Regions from separate parts of the Homo sapiens genome. Here region 2 is linked to region 1. The links come from fine-mapping of genetic effects on gene expression. A gene starts in region 1. The other region holds a variant in brackets. All regions are shown on one strand. Distances are from middle to middle.

What was found. PIP is the estimated chance that this variant, and not a neighbour inherited with it, causes the effect.
Region 2: its variant is fine-mapped to the expression of ETFB in whole blood (TOPMed, PIP 0.98).

Annotation. Positions count from the first base shown.
Region 1 is chr19:51,361,933-51,370,940 of GRCh38, forward strand. ETFB (electron transfer flavoprotein subunit beta) reads right to left here and starts at 4,456. Exons shown (of 6, transcript NM_001985.3): 1 at 4,338-4,456. The coding sequence starts at 4,394. CLDND2 (claudin domain containing 2) reads right to left here and starts at 7,071. Exons shown (of 4, transcript NM_152353.3): 1 at 6,477-7,071; 2 at 5,954-6,094; 3 at 5,525-5,644; 4 at 5,166-5,283. The coding sequence starts at 6,645. The coding sequence ends at 5,210. RefSeq lists enhancers at 4,063-5,022, 5,981-6,940, 6,082-6,181, 6,592-6,641 and silencers at 5,252-5,301, 5,572-5,901.
Region 2 is chr19:51,433,682-51,442,689 of GRCh38, forward strand. No RefSeq gene overlaps it. Among named protein-coding and RNA genes, the nearest start is that of SIGLEC8, 20 kb to the right of the region's middle. RefSeq lists a silencer at 4,951-5,121 and enhancers at 7,642-7,931, 8,232-8,371. The variant G/A (reference allele first, on the strand shown) is at 4,562.

The DNA of each region.
Region 1 (9,008 bases):
GACCTCGTGATCCACCCACCTCAGCCTCCCAAAGTGTGTGTTTACAGGCGTGAGCCACCAGGCCCAGCCTTTCTCCTGGGGTCTTGAAAGAGGCCCTGAAGGTTAAGCTTCATCAGCTTCCTGTAAAATGTGCCCCTGAACAGGACAGGGTGTTACTGAGTTGCCAAATACCTATTAAAATGTTAGATACACGCACATACCCAGAAACATACACACAGCCGGACACACATACACACACACACACACACACACACACACACACACACACACACGAATACACTCTGAGCACAGCATTTGTTATGTTTTGAATAAATGACTAACTAAACATCCATTACTACTACTCCCAATAAAAACACTTATTGCAGCTGGTCACAGTGGCTCACACCTGTAATCCCAGCACGTTGGGAGGCTGAGGCGGGTGGATTACCTGAGGTCAGGAGGTCTAGACCAGCCTGGCTAACATAGCAAAACCTCGTTTCTACTAAAAATACAAAAATTAGCCAGGCGTGGTGGCTCACACGTGTAATCCCAGCTACTCAGGAGGCTGAGGCAGAGTTGCTTGAACCTGGGAAGTGGAGGTTCCAGTGAGCTGAGATCATGCCACTGCACTCCAGCCTGGGCAACAGAGATAGACTCCGTCTCAAAAAATAAAACAAAACAAACCACTGTGTGCCAGGCACTGTTCCAAGGGCTTATTTAATTTTCATTACAACTCAATAAAGTAGATAGTACCATCATCCCCATTGTACAGAGTAGAAAAATGAGGCTTAGAGTGGTGAAGCAATTTCCTCAAGGTCACACAGCAGGAAGTGGACGCAGGCGCTGGGCTTGGAGTCTGAGGTCTGCACTATTCTAGTAGTGAACCCACTGTCTCAGGAAGCAGTGACCACATCAAACTGTCTCCCCCACACCTGGAGCTCAAATTCCAGAAGGGGCGACAGACACCAGAGCAATCAATAAGTAAACAACACTGTGGATTACAAAGTGTCCACACCAGCTTCCCTCTGGGGACAAGCTGGGCTCTCAGAGGGTGCCCCTGCTCCCACCTCCTTCATGGAGAATGTGAGTCACTCCCTCCACTCAGTTAGGTTGGCTCCTTGAACTTTCATCTCTAGCAAACATACTTTCCTCTCCCTTTCTAGTTGCTAAGTATAGGGGAAAACACAGCAAAACACAGGGACCTGGGGCCTGTGATTTTAAGGAGGCAAGCAGGGAAGTCCTCCCAGAGAAGGTGATGTTTGAAAAGGAGGTGAAAGAGGTCAGGGAGTGAGCACGTGATTCTGGGAACAGAGGTGGATCAGACATGGCCCCTCTCTGCAGGGAGCTACCAGCCTGGGGATGATGGAGTAGGGCAGTGGGGAACATGGGGTAAACAGAGGATCCCAATCCAGTCTGGCGAGGGCTGATGGAAGCAAATCTAGGGACTGCAGAAGCCCCCAGGGATATACCAAGGCAACCTGAGGGTGTAGGGTCAGGGGCTTCCTGGAGGAGGCGATGCCAGGGAGAATCACTAAATTATTATTATTATTATTTTGAGACTGAGTCTAGCTCTGTCACCCAGGCTGGAGTACAGGGACACAATCCTGGCTCACTGCAACCTCTGCCTCCCAGGTTCAAGCGATTCTCCTGCCTCAGCCTCCCGAGTAGCTGGGACTACAGATACGTGCCACCATGCCTGGCTAATTTTTTTATTTTTAGGAGAGATGGGGTTTCACCATGTTGGCCTGGCTGGTCTCAAACTCCTGACCTCAACTGATCCACTCGCCTCAGCCTCACAAAGTGCAGGGATTAGAGGTGTGAGCCACCGCGCCTGGCCGAGAATCACTAGATTTTGATATAATCCATGAGTTGGAGTTGGGCAGGACAAAGGACAGAAAGCAGAGGTAGGAGGGTGGTGCTGGAAGAAGGCATGGAACGGGCAAGCCGCGGCCTGGTCTGTCAGGACAGGAGGAGCAGGTCACAGTGGCAGAAGCACAAAGGGTAAGGGAGGGTCCAAGGAGGGAAGTGGACGGCTGAAGCAGACCATGAAGAGGAGGCTGGACCACAAAGCATCCCAAATGCCAGGCAGAGGGGCTGCGACTCTGTCCTGAGGGTGCTGGGGAGCCACAGGCAGGCTGGGAGCAGGGGAGAGCAGGGTGAGCTCTGGGTGCAGAAAGGCCCCTAAGGCTGGGTAGAGGTGGGCTGAGAGGGAGAGACTGGGAGTGAGGGAGGACCCGGGTGAGGGTCCAGGTGAGACAATGACACCAAGAGACAATAGGGCAAGAAGGGTGGGGGGTGGAGAACTGACAGCTTTGGGAGAAGGGAAAGAGGGTGGGACAGTACCCAGGTCTAATCTGGTGTTTAGGAAGCTGGCAGGGTCTGAATCATTTATTTGTTCTGAAAAGGACATCAACAGACACATCCAGTGAGACAGGATGTAATGCAGGGAGCCCTGGGGCACTGCGGGAGGGGAAGGCAGCACCCTCTGGAAAGGACAGTAGCTGATTCAACGCGGCCTTCACGCTTCCCCTCTGTTCTCTCCCTGAGCACACCAGAGACATCCATGTGCCAGGCTCTGTGCTGAGTGATGCTGGGACCAGAGCTGAGTCAAACGTGGGCCTGCACCATGGGGGAGACGGATCCAATCCCAGACATGCCAGGCGTGGAAGGCCAGGGCTGGGATGGAGAGAAGAGGCCCAGGGAGCTGTAGGACTCCAAAGATGTGACAGTAACGAACAGTCAGAGCAGGGAGGAAACCAAGTGTTGGGTCCCAGGACCCCAAGAGGAATGTGTCTCAAAAGGGCTACAGGTGACATCCCTGTCATGTGCTGCCAGAGGCATCATTAGGACAGGGGGCATTGAGGGAGATGGGAGAGCAGAGTCTAGAGCCAGACTTGCCCGGGGTTTCGATCGTAACTCTGCCACTTACTGGCTGGGAGATCTGACAGGCCTCAGTTTCCTCATCTATCCAATGGAATTAATAATACAAAGGGTCGGCCAGGCACGGTGGCTCACACCTGTAATCCCAGCACTTTGGGGGGCCGAGGCAGGCGGGTGGATCACCTGAGGTCTGGAGTTTGAGACCAGCCTGACCAACATGGTGAAACCCCATCTCTACTAAAAATACAAAAAATTAGCCAGGTGTGGTGGCACATGCCTGTAATCCCAGCTACCTGGGAGGCTGAGGTAGGAGAATTGCTTGAACTCGGGAGGCTGAGGTTGCAGTGAGCCAAGACTGCGCCATTGCACTCCAGCCTGGGCAAAAAGAGCAAAACTCCGTCTCAAAAAATAAAAATAAATAATAAATAATACAAAGGGTACTGAAAGGACTGAATGGGTTAATCTCTGCAAAGGACTTGGAACGATGCCTGCCACGTAAGTACCCGCTAAATGCTGGCTGCTATCATCACTGACACTTTCATGCTCAAGTCTGGCTCCTGTACCCTCTTCCCCAGCCCACTCCCTAAGCAGGCAGGGGCAGTATCAGTGTCAACTTTGTGACCCTGGTTTTGCCCACCCTGAGGCCTCCAGGGTGCCAGGCCCTGCGCTAGGTAATGCTGGGGACACGGAGGTAAGTCCCCAGGCTGATGGGAAGGACAGACATGGACAGACAGTCACCATCTTCAGTCCAGTTCAGGCCAAGCATTGAGAGAAACGGGCCTGAGAGACCGTGTCTGATTCACCTCTGTCCACACCAGCTTCCCTCTGGGGACAACAAGCCAGGCGCTGAGAGCACCCTCCCCCACCTCTTTCATGGAGAATGTGAGCTACCCCCAGCTCAGTCAGGTTGGCTCCTTGAACTTTCATCTCTAGCAAACACACTTCTCTCTCCCTAGCTAGAGCCTCCTGGCTCACCCTGTGGCTATGGAGGGTGGAAAGCAGCTTCTGGGGCCCCACAGGACCCTGTCTGACTCCCTCTATAGCACATTTCGGGTAATATAAGAGTACAATGGTAAGTAATGCAGCCTAGTGGGTGAAAGCAGTCAGAGGAACCTGGATAGAACTCTCGGCTCTGCCCTTCTCTAGCTGGGTGACCTCTCTGTGCCTCAGTTTCTCCGTGCATTAAACAGGGACCGTGACTTCTTCCAGTGGGTAAGAAATAGAGAAAGCAACTCACTCTGAACAGTTATCAAGAGAGTGAATCCAGAACGAGGGAAAAGAGAACATGGCCGTGACCCCGGAGGGATCGGATGTTAGAACTTCACTCTTGGATTTTTGCCCTCAGGTGACTTTGACGTTTGGGGGTTAAAGCGGCAGAGGTCGGGGGTTACGAGAAGACCCCCACCCAGTGTGCGCTCGTGGCCCCGGAAGCACACGGCTGCGGGACTCAGGGATGTGGGAGAGGGGGGCCCGATCACCTTCACGGCGTAGTCGATGACCCTCTTGACAGCTACGAGCACGCGCAGCTCCGCCATCTTCCCGCCGCAGCCACTTACAGGGTCAGCCCGCACCCTCAGCGGCTCAGTCCAGAAGCCCCACCACCCCCGCCCCCCGCGCCCCTCTCTGCGCCTGCGCGCAGCACGGTCAGCCAGTCAACCGCTGCAGAGCCCGCCTCCCCGACAGAGGACCAATCGAGAGGCCGGAAGGAAGGGAGGTGTGGCAAGCAATGCAAACCAATGGGAAGCGGATCTCGGGGAGCGAGCGGGACCTGGAGAGAGAAGGAAAGGCCTGGCGGAGAGGGCAGGGCAGAGAACTAGGGGAAAGGTCGTGCACTGGAGGGAAGCGCGCCCGGAGTTTATAGATCCTCCCGGTCCTATAAACACTTCCCGGTATCCCCGGATCTGCTCTCCCTCTCCAGATCCCCCACTTCTTCCCGGCCTCTCCAAGTCGCGGTACTCGTATTCCCACGCCTCTGAATCCTCGCGCGTCGGTCTCTCCACTCTCTCCATCCCCGTGTTCCCTGTCCCTTCCATATCCGTATCCTCCCCTGTCCGTGTCTCTACTTCACCTCCATGTCGTCCCCACAGCCTCTCCACACCCTCTCCAAAGGCCCACGTCCCCTCCTGGCCCCGCCCCTCCCACATGTCCCTGTTCCCATCCCAATCCATGGAGACTTGTGTCTCCATGTCTGTGTCTCCCTGTCTCCACGTTCCCTATGAGTTCATGTCCTTATGTCTTCCCTGAGCCTCTATGCAACCCCGTGCCTGCGTCCCCACGACCCGCAGAAAAGCACGCGGAGCCGCAGCGCTAAAAAAAGCCGTTCCTTTATTCTGCCCCAGGCAGGCTGCAGTCACAGACACACGGGGAATCCACTGATGGCGTCGGTGCTCTGCATGATCATGTCTGCCAGCAGAAAGCAGAAGCCTGGGGGGACGGGGGTGCGGAGCAGGGAGAGGAAGGTGGGCCCTGGGGCGGATGGCCGGGAGGGCCCCGGGGACTGGGGTTTGGGGCTCCAAGGGGGTCTCTGCCGGGTCTGCGGGAGTCGTTAGTGTGTTGGGGAGTCCCCGAGAGGTCCCCGGGGTTTCCTGGGAGGGCAGCTGGGGAGCCTCTGGGGTGAGGGTCTTCTGGGCAGTCTCCTCCACCCTCTTCCCGCTGTCCAGTTTACCCGCGAGAATTGAGAAGGGTAAGGCCAGCCACCCAGAAAAATAGGACCAAGAGAAGAAGACGTTGTTCTTCCACGCATTCTTCACGGTGTAGCCTATCAAGGCGGTCAGCAGCAGCAGTCCTGGGCCCCGCCCAGCCGCAAGATGAGCTAGCTGGGCCTGGTGGGGGCTGCACCCAGGCCACGCCCCTTCAGACCCGCCCCCTTCTATCAGACCACGCCTATCGCCTCTCAGCCCGCCCCTGGCCCAGGCCCCTTCCTGCTCCTCCCGCTCTGAACTCTGTCTCGAGCCCCGCCCACCTCTCTCGGCTTCTTCCAGCCCTGCCCCTCGGATCCTGGCCGAGTACCTCAAGCCCCTCCCCTGGCGACCAGGCCCCTCCATCACCCAGGGCCCGCCCCTGCCTGCCCGCCTGGGGCGGTCTGCAGTCTCACCGCCGAGGAAGAGGAAGGCGCTCGTGGTCTGGCCCCGCAGCGACTCGCCCTCGTCGCACCGAATCCGCAGTCCCATCACCATGCCCACCACGCCGACACCCACCGCCAGCACCATGCACGCCACAGTCACCGCCAGCGTGGCTGGGGAGAGCGGGCGCATCAGCCCCCGCGGGCGCCGCCCCAGTCACTACGGGTTCGGCCGCAACCGGAAGCTCTCCCGTCTCCTGCCCCCAACCCGGTGTGTGGCCAGGAGCCGAGCTCCACCGACCGGGAGTCAGGCGTTTGGATTGAGACTTGGAGGTCACATCAGGACCTGCGGTTACTGCCGCTACCAGGACGGGGAGGGGGTCGGGGACAAGCCCACAAGTCGAGGGGCGGGGTTCGTGGCGGCCTCGGCCGACAAGGGACAGCTGCAACTGAGCCCGGGGTGGAAGGGGTGGGCGTCTCGCCATGGGCCCAGCTGTGTGTCCCGAGCCCTGGGGGTCTGAAATGCCCTCTGACATCTGGGCGGGCGGAGCCTCACTCTGGCAGGGGATGCTGGAGCAGATGCCGTGGTTGCATTCCTGCCACAGGCCACTGTGGCCCTCTTGTTGGCGGGTCCAGTAGTTGGTGGCCGTGGAGAGCACCATGAGGACGTTGGCCACGAGGCTGAGCAGAATGCCCCCACTCTGGAGGCTCCGCTTCACCCCCATGCCACTGAGGCTGCAGCCGGGGGCCACAAGGGCAGGATGGGCCCAGGCCTTTCCTACCCCGAGGCCCCCAGCTGAGGAGCCCGCTTCCTCCACACTCCTCCCCTGGTACTCCTGCCTGAGGTCCCTGCTTCTGGGGACCTGGAGACCCCCCTCCCTCAACAACCCTGCCTGAGGATCCACAACCTCCTCCCTCCAGACCTCGTTCCCCTTACTGGAGACCTTGAGACTTCCCCTGAGAGGCCTCTGAGACCTTCACCACAGGCTTTGCTGTGAGGAACCTGTCTTCCCAGAGACCTCCCCCGACAGCCGAACGCCCTTTCAGCCCAGCCTGTTCAATGTCCTCCCCAGACACCCCTCCACACAGGCCCACCTAAGTGACTCACACCCAGTGCCCTAGGGCTCCTTAGACACAGAGCCCAGAGAGACGGGGGGAGGGAGGCTGGGTCTCTGTGAGGCCAGGGGTTCCAGAACCCCCTCCCCCAGTGGCTGTTTAAAGGGATAATCACTCCCCCCACCACCATCGCATACACCCCCGCAGCTCTCAACTGAGTGACTGCTTAGATTCAGATCTCAGCTTTGGGGGCCGTTACATGATAGGCCGAGTCCTTCTTTTATCATTATTATCATTATTATTTTTTGAGATGGAGTCTTGCTCTGTCACCCAGGCTGGAGCGCAGTGGCACGATCTCGGCTCACTGCAACCTCCACCTCCTGGGTTCAAGCAATTCTTCTGCCTCAGCCTCACAAGTAGCTGGGACTGCAGGCGCACACCACCACATCTGGCTAATTTTTGTATTTTTAGTAGAGACGGGGTTTCACCATATTGGCCAGGCTGGTCTTGGACTCCTGACCTTGTGATCTGCCTGCCTCAGCCTCCCAAAGTGCTGGGATTACAGGCGTGAGCCATCTCTCTCTCCCAGGCTGGAGTGCAGTGGCACCATCACAGCTCACTGCAGCCTTGAACTCCTGGGCTCAAGGAAACCTCCTGCCTCGGCCTCCTGAGTAGCTGGGACTACAGGCATGTGCCACCACACCTGGCTAATTTTCTTAAGATTTTTTGTAGAGATGGGGTCTTGCTATGTTGCCCAATCTGATCTCAAACTCTTGGGCTCAAGCGATCCTCCTACCTTGGCCTCCCAAAATGCTGACATTATGGATGTGAGCCACCACTCCCAGCCCTTTCTTAGAAACTTCTCTTTCCCTTGGCCGGGTGCGCAGTGGCTCACGCCTGTAATCCCAGCACTTTAGGAGGCCGAGGCGGGCAGATCACCTGAAGTCAGGGGTTTGAGACAAGCCTGACCAACATGGCAAAACCCCGTCTCTACTAAAAATACAAAAATTAGCCAGGCTAGCCGGGGGTGATGGCAGGTGCCTATAATCCCAGCTACTGGGGATGCGAGGCAGGAGAATCACTTGAACCCGGGAGGTGGAGGTTGCAGTTAGCTGAGATCGCGCCATTGCATTCTAGCCTGGGCGACAGAGCAAGACTCCATCTCAAAAAAAAAAAAAAAAAGACAAAATTAGCCAGGTATGGTGGCGCACGCCTGTAATCCCAGCTACTCAAGAGGCTGAGGGAGGAGAATTGCTTGAACCCGGGAGGCAGAGGTTGCAGTGAGCCAAGATCACACCACTGCACTCCAGCCTGGGTGATAGAACAAGACTCCGTCTCAAAAAAAAAAAACAACCTTCTCTTCCCTTGACATTCTAGGCACCGCAGAAGCTCTCCAGGTCCCCAGCTGTCTGACTGCAGACTTCTGCTCCTCTGCCTTCTCCCCTTCACTTGTAAATCTGGGTATCCCTTGAAGCTCCACCCTGCACTCTCTTGCCAGGCAAGCCTCCTCACGGCCAAAGTTTCAGTGCTCCTTAATGCTCCATCCAAAACTCCATCTCCAACCCAAGGTCTCTCCCCTGAGCCTGACTCAAGTTCTCACCTGCTCCTGGCTGCCCCTCAGGGCCTTAATAGTCAACCATATTCCAACTGAGCTTAGTGTCTTCCACCATATTAGGGATGGCCCTGCCATCCCATCCAGTTCATCGAGCCAGACCCTTGGGCACTGTCCTCACCTTCTTCTTGCCCTTCACCCTGAAAAGCCTTGGGTCCCTAAGTCCTGCTCCTCCTGCCCCTGAATCTGTCTGGCTCATTCCCTCCTTTCCTGGTCCCAGGTCAGGCCTCATCATGTCCCACCTATTGCATTGCCAAGTTCCTCCCTCACCTTCTGGCCTCCCCTCCATGTCTACAGGGGGGTCTTTCTGGCACCCAGAGCTGACACTGTCCCTCCCCTGCCCACAATTTTTCTCCCAACTCCCCATCATGTTCAAGAGAAAGTCCAGCATGACATTAGAGGCCACAGCCCCCACCTGCC
Region 2 (9,008 bases), 72 kb after region 1:
CAGTGGCGTCATCTTGGCTCACTGCAACCTCCACCTCCCAGGTTCAAGCAATTCTCCTGCTTCAGCCTCCCGAGTAGCTGGGATCACAGGTACGTGCCACCACACCTGGCTAATTTTGTATTTTTAGTAGAGATAGGGTTTCACCATGTTGGTCAGGCTGCTCTCAAATGCCTGACCTCAGGTGATCCACCCGCCTCGGCCTCCCAAAGTGCTGGGATTACAGGCGTGAGCCACCGTGCCCGGCCTGTATTTTCTTTTCTTTTTTTTTTTTTTTTTAGTAGAGATGGGGTTTCACCATATTGGCCAGGCTGGTCTCGAACTCCTGACCTCAGGTGATCCACCTGCCTCGGCCTCCCAAAGTGCTGGGATTACAGGTGTGAGCCACCATGCCTGTCTCCTTGGTTTTTTTGTTTGTTTTGTTTTTTGTTTTCTTTTTCTTTTTCTTTTTTTTTGAGATAGGGTCTTGCTCTGTTGCCCAGGCTGCAGTGCAGTGGCATGATTGGGCTCACTGAAACCTCTGCCTCCCAGGTTCAAGCGATTCTGCTGCCTCAGTCTCCCGAGTACCTGGGATTACAGGCACATGTCATCATGCCTGGCTAATTTTTATATTTTTAGCAGAGATGGGGTTTCATCATGTGGGCCAGGCTGGTCTAGAACTCCTGACTTCAAGTGATATGCCCACCTCGGCCTCCCAAAGTGCTGGGATTACAGGCGTGAGCCACCATGCCCCAGCCCAGCTTCTCCTTCTATTTTAAGGCTGAGTAATATTCAATTGCATGTATACAATACACTTTGTTTATTCATTCACTTTTTAGGAATAGCAGGGTTGCTTTTCCCTTTTACCTACTGTGAATATGCTTCTGTGAACACAGATGCATAAAACTATGCTCAAGTTCCGGCTTTTGATCTTTTGGGCCATATACCCAGAGGTGAAATTGCTGGATCATAAGATCATTCTATTTTTAATTTTTTTGAGGAACCCCACTACTACTCTCTAGAGCAACTTCACCATTTAACTTTCCCATCAGCAATGCACAAGAGTTCCAATGCATAAGAGATCACATGGACAGCTCAGCAAGCTGAATAATGGCCACCCAAAGAAATACAGTCTCAGCTCCTTGAACTTCTAAATATTACCTTACAAATAAAGTGTCTTTGTATAATTTTTTTTGAGACAGTCTCACTCTGTTGCCCAGGCTGGAGTGCAGTGGTGCGATCTCAGCTCACTGCAACCTCCGCCTCCCAGGTTCAAGTGATTCTCCTGCCTCAGCCTCCTGAGTAGCTGGGATTACAGACGCCCGCCGCCACACCCAGCTAACTTTTGCATTTTTGGTAGAGACCAGGTTTCACCATGTTGGCCAGGCTGGTCTCGAACTCCTGACCTCGAGTGATCCACCAGCCTCAGCCTCCCAAAGTGCTGGGATTACAGGCATGAGCCACCATACTTGGCCACTGTGCAGAGAATACTGTAGCCACATGGAATACATGTGGTTAGGGCACTGTGTTAGCTAGTCTGGGCTGCCATAGCAAAATACTATAAATTAAGCCTCCTATAAACAACAGAAATTTATTTCTCACAATTCTGGAGGTTAGAAGTCCAAGGTTAGAAGATCAAGTTGTCAGATGATTTGTTTTCTTGTGAGGCTCTGTTTCCTGGCTTGTAGATGCCACCTTCTCACTGTGTCCTCACATGGTTGAGAGACAGCAAGTTCTGTGGGGTCTCTGCTTATAAGGGCACTGTATTAGTCCGTTTTCACACTGCTGGTAATGACATACCTGAGACTGGGCAATTTACCAAAGAAAGAGGTTTAATGGACTTACAGTTCCACGTGGCCGGAGAAGCCTCACAATCATGGCAGAAGGTGAAAGTCATGTCTCATATGGCGGCAGACAAGAGATGAGCTTGTGCAGGGAAACTCCCCTTTTTAAAACCATCAATCTTGTGAGAATTATTCACTATCATGAGAACAGCACAGGAAAGACCTGCCTCCATGATTCAATTACCAGCCGCAATGTCCCTCCCACAACACGTGGAAATTCATGATGAGATTTGGGTGGGGACACAGCCAAACCATATCAGGCACTAATTCCATAGTGGGTCCCCACCCTCATGACCCCATGTAACATAATTACCTACAAAAAGCCCCATCTCCAAATACATCACATTGGTGGTTAGGGCTTCAACATATGAATTTTGGGGGAACATAAACATGCAGTTCATAACAGGCATTTTACTGAAACCTTGTCATCTCCCATGCCATGAGTTTAGATCAACAAATAATCATGCGGAAAAAAAATCTATATAGAAATTTCTTACAGCAAAGCCTCTGCTCATTTTTTCGATAATCTCATTTTTTTAAATTGCAAGGAACAGAAATGAAAACCGATAGCTTAATCTGGAAAAGAAGGGTTTTATTAAAAAAACACGTTTGCTTAATTTTTGGCCCAGGCAGTGGGGAATCTGGGAACATCTCCTAACTCAAGGTCAAGATCAGCACATCACTGATATCCAATGTGACCCTCAGGGTGCTGTTTCTTGCTCTCCGCATGGTGGGCTGCAGGTGCCTGAGCCATCTTCATTCTCTGGCTAGCAATGTTCGTGCAATGTGAGGTCTCCCCAGCTCAAGGCTCATGCCGTTCCTGCAGCTGAAAGGGAGAGCAACACCTCCATCCTGTAAGCTCCAACAGCATCTTCCCGACAGCCACGAGGAGCCACATCCAGTTCTTTCCTCCATGTTTTTATGAGCGAATAGGTTGACTGGAGTTTGAACTTCTGGGTTCAAACCCTCAGAAGTTCAAGGTTCAATCCCCCATTGACCTATTCCCACACTCGATATCCATGATAAGAATGATTCTCAGGGTACATTGGGCTTGTTGACAAAGAAAGGAGGATTTTTTATAAGAATTTCCATCTCTGACTTTTGTCCAACAATTAGATTCTATTCCTTGTTTCTAAATGAAAATATGAAGAAACACATCCTTTCGGAACTAAAATAAATAACACTTTGAAGTTGAAACAGAGAAAATATGAGGCTGCACATGGAATTAGTAGGAAATTATGCTCTCATTTGAGGTTATTCTGATTTCGCCAAGGAAGATTTAAGCTCAAAAGGTAAGGTGGACAGGGAATCACCCCATGGTGAGACACATAGGGATATTCGGGCATAGAGTACAAGCTAATTAAGCTTGATATGTACGAGGAATTTCTCTTAGTAATCAATGAGAATGTGAAGTGTACAGAAAATAACTTTTGATGAACAAGGAAGAGCACATGAATTTACATACAAGAAATCTTTCCTCACTGGGCAAAAAGCTCATTCAATTTCTTTCTTTTTTTCAAGCCAGAGTCTCTGTCACCCAGGCAGGAGTGCAGTGGCATGATCTTGACTCACTGCAGCCTCAACCTCCTTGGTTCAAGAGATTCTTGTACCTCAGCCTCCCAACTAGCTGGGATTACAGTCGTGTGTCACCACGTCCCACTAGTTTTTTGAATTTTTGGTAGAGATGAGGTTTTGCTATGTTGGCCAGGCTGGTCTCAAACTCCTGGCCTCAAGTAATCCTCCCAGCTTGGCCTCCCAAAATGCTGGAATTACAGGTGTGAGCCATCATGCCCAGCTTTATTCAGTTCCTTAAGGAGGATGAGCAGCATTGAGCGGATGGGAATGTGCCTTCTCTGGAGACAGGTTTGCATGTAGAGATGCCATCATAATTTATAAGGACAGGTTTTCTCTTTTTTCCTATTTTTTAGAGATGGTGTTTTGCCATGTTTCCCAGGCTAGTCTCCAACTCCTGGGCTCAAATGATCCACTTGCCTTGACCTCCCAAAGTGCTGGGATTACAGATGTGAGCCACTGTGTATGGCTTTCTTTTTTCCTTTCCTTTTCTTTTCTTTTCCTTTTTAGACGGAGTCTCACTCTGTCACTCAGGCTGGAGTGCAGTGGTGCGATCTCGGCTCACTTCAACCTCCACCTCCTTGGTTCAAGCGATTCTCCTGCCTCAGCCTACCGAGTAGCTGGAACTCCAGGCGCGCACCACCATGCCCAGCTAATTTTTGTATTTTTAGTAGAGACAGGGTTTCACCATGCTGGCCAGGATGGTCTCCATCTCTTGACCTTGTGATCCGCCCACCTCGGCCTCCCAAAGTGCTGGGATTATAAGCGTGAGCCACCGCGCCCGACCCCAGGACAGGTTTTCTAAGGCTCATGGCCCTTGGCCATTTGCTGCATGATCTCCATCTCCATAGGGCTTTGTAGCAGCTCTCATTGCCTCTCCCACAATTCATGCATCAGGCAATGCCCAGGAACCACAAGAGTATAATTAATATTCACATTCAAAATCATAGTTGTTTCTATTCAATGTTATAGCATGCTTTTTTTTTTTTTTTTGGCTTTTAATGAAAAAAAGCATTGATTTCTGTTGTCTTGGAAATCAGAGGGGTAGACCTGGCTTCAACGGTGGCTGGATTTCAGGGTCCGATGATATAAGGGCTCATCTCTCTGTTTGCTTTTGGCTCTTGTTCTTGTTTGTTGTTGCTGCTGTGGTTGTTCATTTATTCTGCCTG[G/A]TTTTTGTTCTCAGGCTAATAAATGTAGGAGCTCTGATGTCCACTTTGCAGATGAGGACGCTGAGGCATACAGAGATCAAGTAATTTCCCTTCTGAGGCAGAGTCCGTGGACTTCCCACAGCCCCATGACACCCCCTTATGGCTGTGTATCCAACTCAACATTCCCTGCCCTGATCAGGGCGCCCCCTGCTGCTCACCCAGAGATTTGCCAGGATCCCTGCACCAATCTCCTCCACCCTTTTTGACTCCCAAATGCTTCTTGACACCTGACTCCCACCCTGTCACTCAGAGACTAACCTATGTCAAGATTTACAAACTCCCCGGGTGCGGTGGCTCACGCCTGTAATCCCAGCACTTTGGGAGCCCGAGGCGGGCGGATCACCTGAGGTCAGGAGTTCGAGACGAGCCTGGCCAACATAGGGAAACCCCCATCTCTACTAAAAATACAAAAAGTAGCTGGGCGTTGTGGCAGGCGCCTGCAATCCCAGCTATTTTGGGAGGCTGAGGCGACAGAATCGCTTGAACCTGAGAGTCAGAGGTTGCAGTGAGCCGAGATCGCGCCATTGCACTCCAGCCTGGACAACGAGAGAGAAACTCTGTCTCAAAAAAGAAGAAGAAAAAAAAAAAAACTAAACAAACAAAAAACAAACCCCCAAAAACAAAGATTTACAATCTTACCAAACAGGAATGGTAACTACAGGAAGTAGTTACTATCTGAGGTTATTGGTAATGTTATTGCTATTGTTAATGTCACTTTTTTTTCCCACTCCCATTTTCTCTGGAAGCCGTTTGGGAGGTCCTGCCTCTCACCTTCTCTATCCACTTCTTACTCCTACCAGAGGTTGTAGACAAAGATGAGGGTTGATGCATTGTGCAACTCTGTGGCTCCCCCTAGTGATATGATACATTTGGGGTGATGGGGTTTGCCTAGACAGGGCCCCAAGGATGCTGGTAGGGAGCAGGTAGGGAACCCCACCTTGTGTACAGCTCCTCAAAAATCCCAGGTTAACATTCCATTTGGTCTCCAGGCCTGATAAATGGGGAGGAGTGGCTGTTCATTAGTGTGCACTCTGGCTGCACCGGGCAGGACTTTGCCCCGGGAGGGACTGTGACGTTCTGCTCTCTTGGTAAGAAGGTACAAAGCTGGGCTCCAGAAATGGATTGAGAGCTCCTTGGGTCTGCTCCCCAGGCTGCCACCCGCCCCCAGGTGAGCCCTGGATACTGCTATTCCTGACTGAAGAGACAGGGTTTTGGACAAGGTGCTCCAGAAGGCCAGATTTCTCTCTGGGCAAGGTTCATGTGTTTCCCACACAAGTCTACTTCTGGGATTCTTCATGGATCTACAAATCGGACTAGGCAAAAGCTGTGCATGCTGCTGTGTATACAAAATAGTAAACCCTGATATAGACGATGGACTTTGGGTGCTAATACCGTATCAATGGAGGTTCATCAAGTATGACAAATGTACCACTCTGGTGGGAGATGCTGATAATAGAGGAGGTTATGCATGTGTGGGGGCAGGTGGTATATGGAGAATCTCTGTACCTTCTGCTCAATCTGTGAACCTAAACTGCTCTAAAAATTATGTCTATCCCGTCATATGCTTCTGGGAAAAATTGTCTATATATATTTTTTAAATGGAAAGAACTGGCTGGGCATAGTGGCTCAAGCCTACATCTCAGCACTTAAGGAGGCTGAAGTGGGAGGATTGCTTGAGTCCATGAGTTTGAGATCAGCCTGGGCAACATAGGCAGACTCTGTCTCTACAAAAAAAAAAAAAAAATTAGCTAGGCATGGTAGTGCATGCTTGTGGTCCCAGCTACTCGGGAGGCTGAGGCAGGAGGACTGCCTGAGCCTGGAGGGTTGAGGCTGCAGTGAACCATGATCATGCCACTGCACTCCAGCCTGGGCAACAGAGCAAGACCCTGTTTCAAAACAAATTGAAAAAAGCTTAATGCTCCTAAATAGGGTATTGGTTGAATAAGTCAACACACATCAAATTCAGTGGAATACTATGCAGCCATGAATAATTAACAGTAGTGGTGCAGAGCTGTTGCTTCTCCAGTGGGGATCCAGGACCCAAGGGCAGGGCGTGAAAAGTGCTTCAGAGGAGCTAAAGGCAGAAGGTCCACTTTGCATATCTTCTGGGGATGTCATTTATACTCAAATACTGAGTCAGGTCAATCAGACAACTTTAGTGACAATGAATGCATTATTTTCCCGTTGAAACTAACAGAAACGTGTTTTTCCATAGGCCACAAACATTCATAGGGACTTTCAGAGTAAAACAGAAGACTTCAGAGATATTTTGTAATTATATCTAGATACAGAAGACTTGAGATATTTTGTAAATATATGCTAGACACTCAGAGCTGTATATTCACCTTCCTCTGATTAAATTTGCCCTTAATGTTTCAGAATTCCTAATAAAGGACATTTAAGAATATGATCCCACTTTGGTAAACATTATGTATATGTGCATGAGTGTATATAACACATCAAAACTGAAAAGAGAGGATGGCAGATTGCAGGCATTGTTAGCCGGCCTCTCCCACCTTGGAAAGATGAAACAGTGTATAAAGATTTATGTTGTGACCTTTTCACCAGGGACCAACACAGGAACTTAACAGGAAAACTGGAAGAAACCACAGACCTTTCTAAAGAAACGGTGGGCAGCAGCCTACACCACGAGCCAGACAGAAAACTGTGAGTCCCCACAGTGTGAGAAGGGGAGAGACTGACTCAGGGATGTGCACTCCCACTGGGGTGCCACGCAGTCCAGGCCACAGGAGGGGGAAGCCCTCACCCTGCCCAGCACTGGAGCTGAGTTAGGGAGCGTTGGGGAGTAGATAAGGAGTCACATTGGGATGTGCTTGGCGTGCAGTCCTGGGCTCCAGCAGGGACAGAGGGAAGCCATTCCCGATGCTACCTCACAGGGGGCCTTGCAGAAGCCAGCTAGCTGACTCAGGAGGCGGTCACGGGTTGAGAGAAGCTCCCGACTGAGATCTGCAATGTCATCTTGAGTGGGGAAAGTAGACTTGCCCGAAATCTAAGACTCATAGGTGTTCTTGAGGGAGAAGAAAAAGCAAAAAGTTGAGAAAATTCAATGATTGGAAAGATACAGAATCAACCTAAGTGCTCTTCAACCCGAAGGAAAGGCTACAAAAGAATACACATCCCTGAGTCAGTCTCTCCCCTTCTCACACTGTGGGGACTCACAGTTTTCTGCCTGGCTCGTGGTGTAGGCTGCTGCCCACCGCTTCTTTAGAAAGGTCTGTGGTTTCTTCCAGTTTTCCTGTGAAGTCTCTGTGTTGCTCCCTGGTGCAGCTGCAGCGTAAGTAGGTTAGACAGGCGTTTCACAGCCTCCCTTACACAGCCTCCCTTAAAGGGAAACACATTTGCTAAATAGACGGAGAGAACAATCCGCCGGACAGCTCGCAAACCCCGACAGCGCATAAACCGCATCCTGGGCTCGTGGTCAAAACATCCTGTAGCAAGGAGGTAGAAGGGAAGAAGGGACAGTCCCCATATCCGTGCAAGTGCAGAAACCCATGCTTAGGTAGTGTCCTTGGGCTGACCTATGCTCATTATAATAGTGAAAACACACCCTCACGTGGAGACTTAAGGTGCTACTGAGACAGCGATGTATATGCACTAGCATGTACAGCCATTGCGCATGCGGGCCTAACAGACCACCCAGAACACGCTTAAGAGCAACACCGTCCCACCCACGCATGAGTAATCACGGAAGATTCCCCTAAAGGGAGTTTCCCCAGCGTCAGTCAGCGCTGTCTCACCTTTGAGCAGCCGCTCTGACCAGCTGTTAAGAGTGCACGTTCACTTTGCAATTAACTCTCTTGCTTACTTTTACCTTGGACTCACTCTCGAATTCTTTTCTTGAGGCAAAGTCAAGAACCGGAACTGGCCCACCAGCCATAGCAGGGGAGACTGTGTGTGCCGCGGTGCAGGCAGCACTCATGCCGGGAATGGTGAGGATGGCACCAGCTTGTCGGATTTTTTGTTGGCATTTGTGTTTGTTTCTCTACTCACCACCCAAGTGATAAAATAGGATCCTTGGTGTGGAACTTAGAATTATGCCAAAAAGCTAACAGTTCTCCTTTCTAGCCAGCTACAAAGCCAGACCATGCCCACCACTGCCATGCTTGCAAAACGGGTCACCACGGCCTGTAGGTGAGCAGTTGTGTAGGAGAAAAGAATCCAATTTTTTTGTGTGCTCTTTACTATTATGTAGACAGCTCCGTCTTCAGCCCACACTTTGGTTCCCTGTGGATTTCAGTTTGTGTCCTGTGTCTGAGGACAGCGGACTGAATACAGTGATTTTTTACCTCCAATAAATGTCATCCCGCTGCCCTTCCTGTGCCTCGAGGGTTGTCTGTTTTTCTCTTTCTTTTTCTTTCTTTCTCTTTCTTTCTTTCTTGCTTACTTT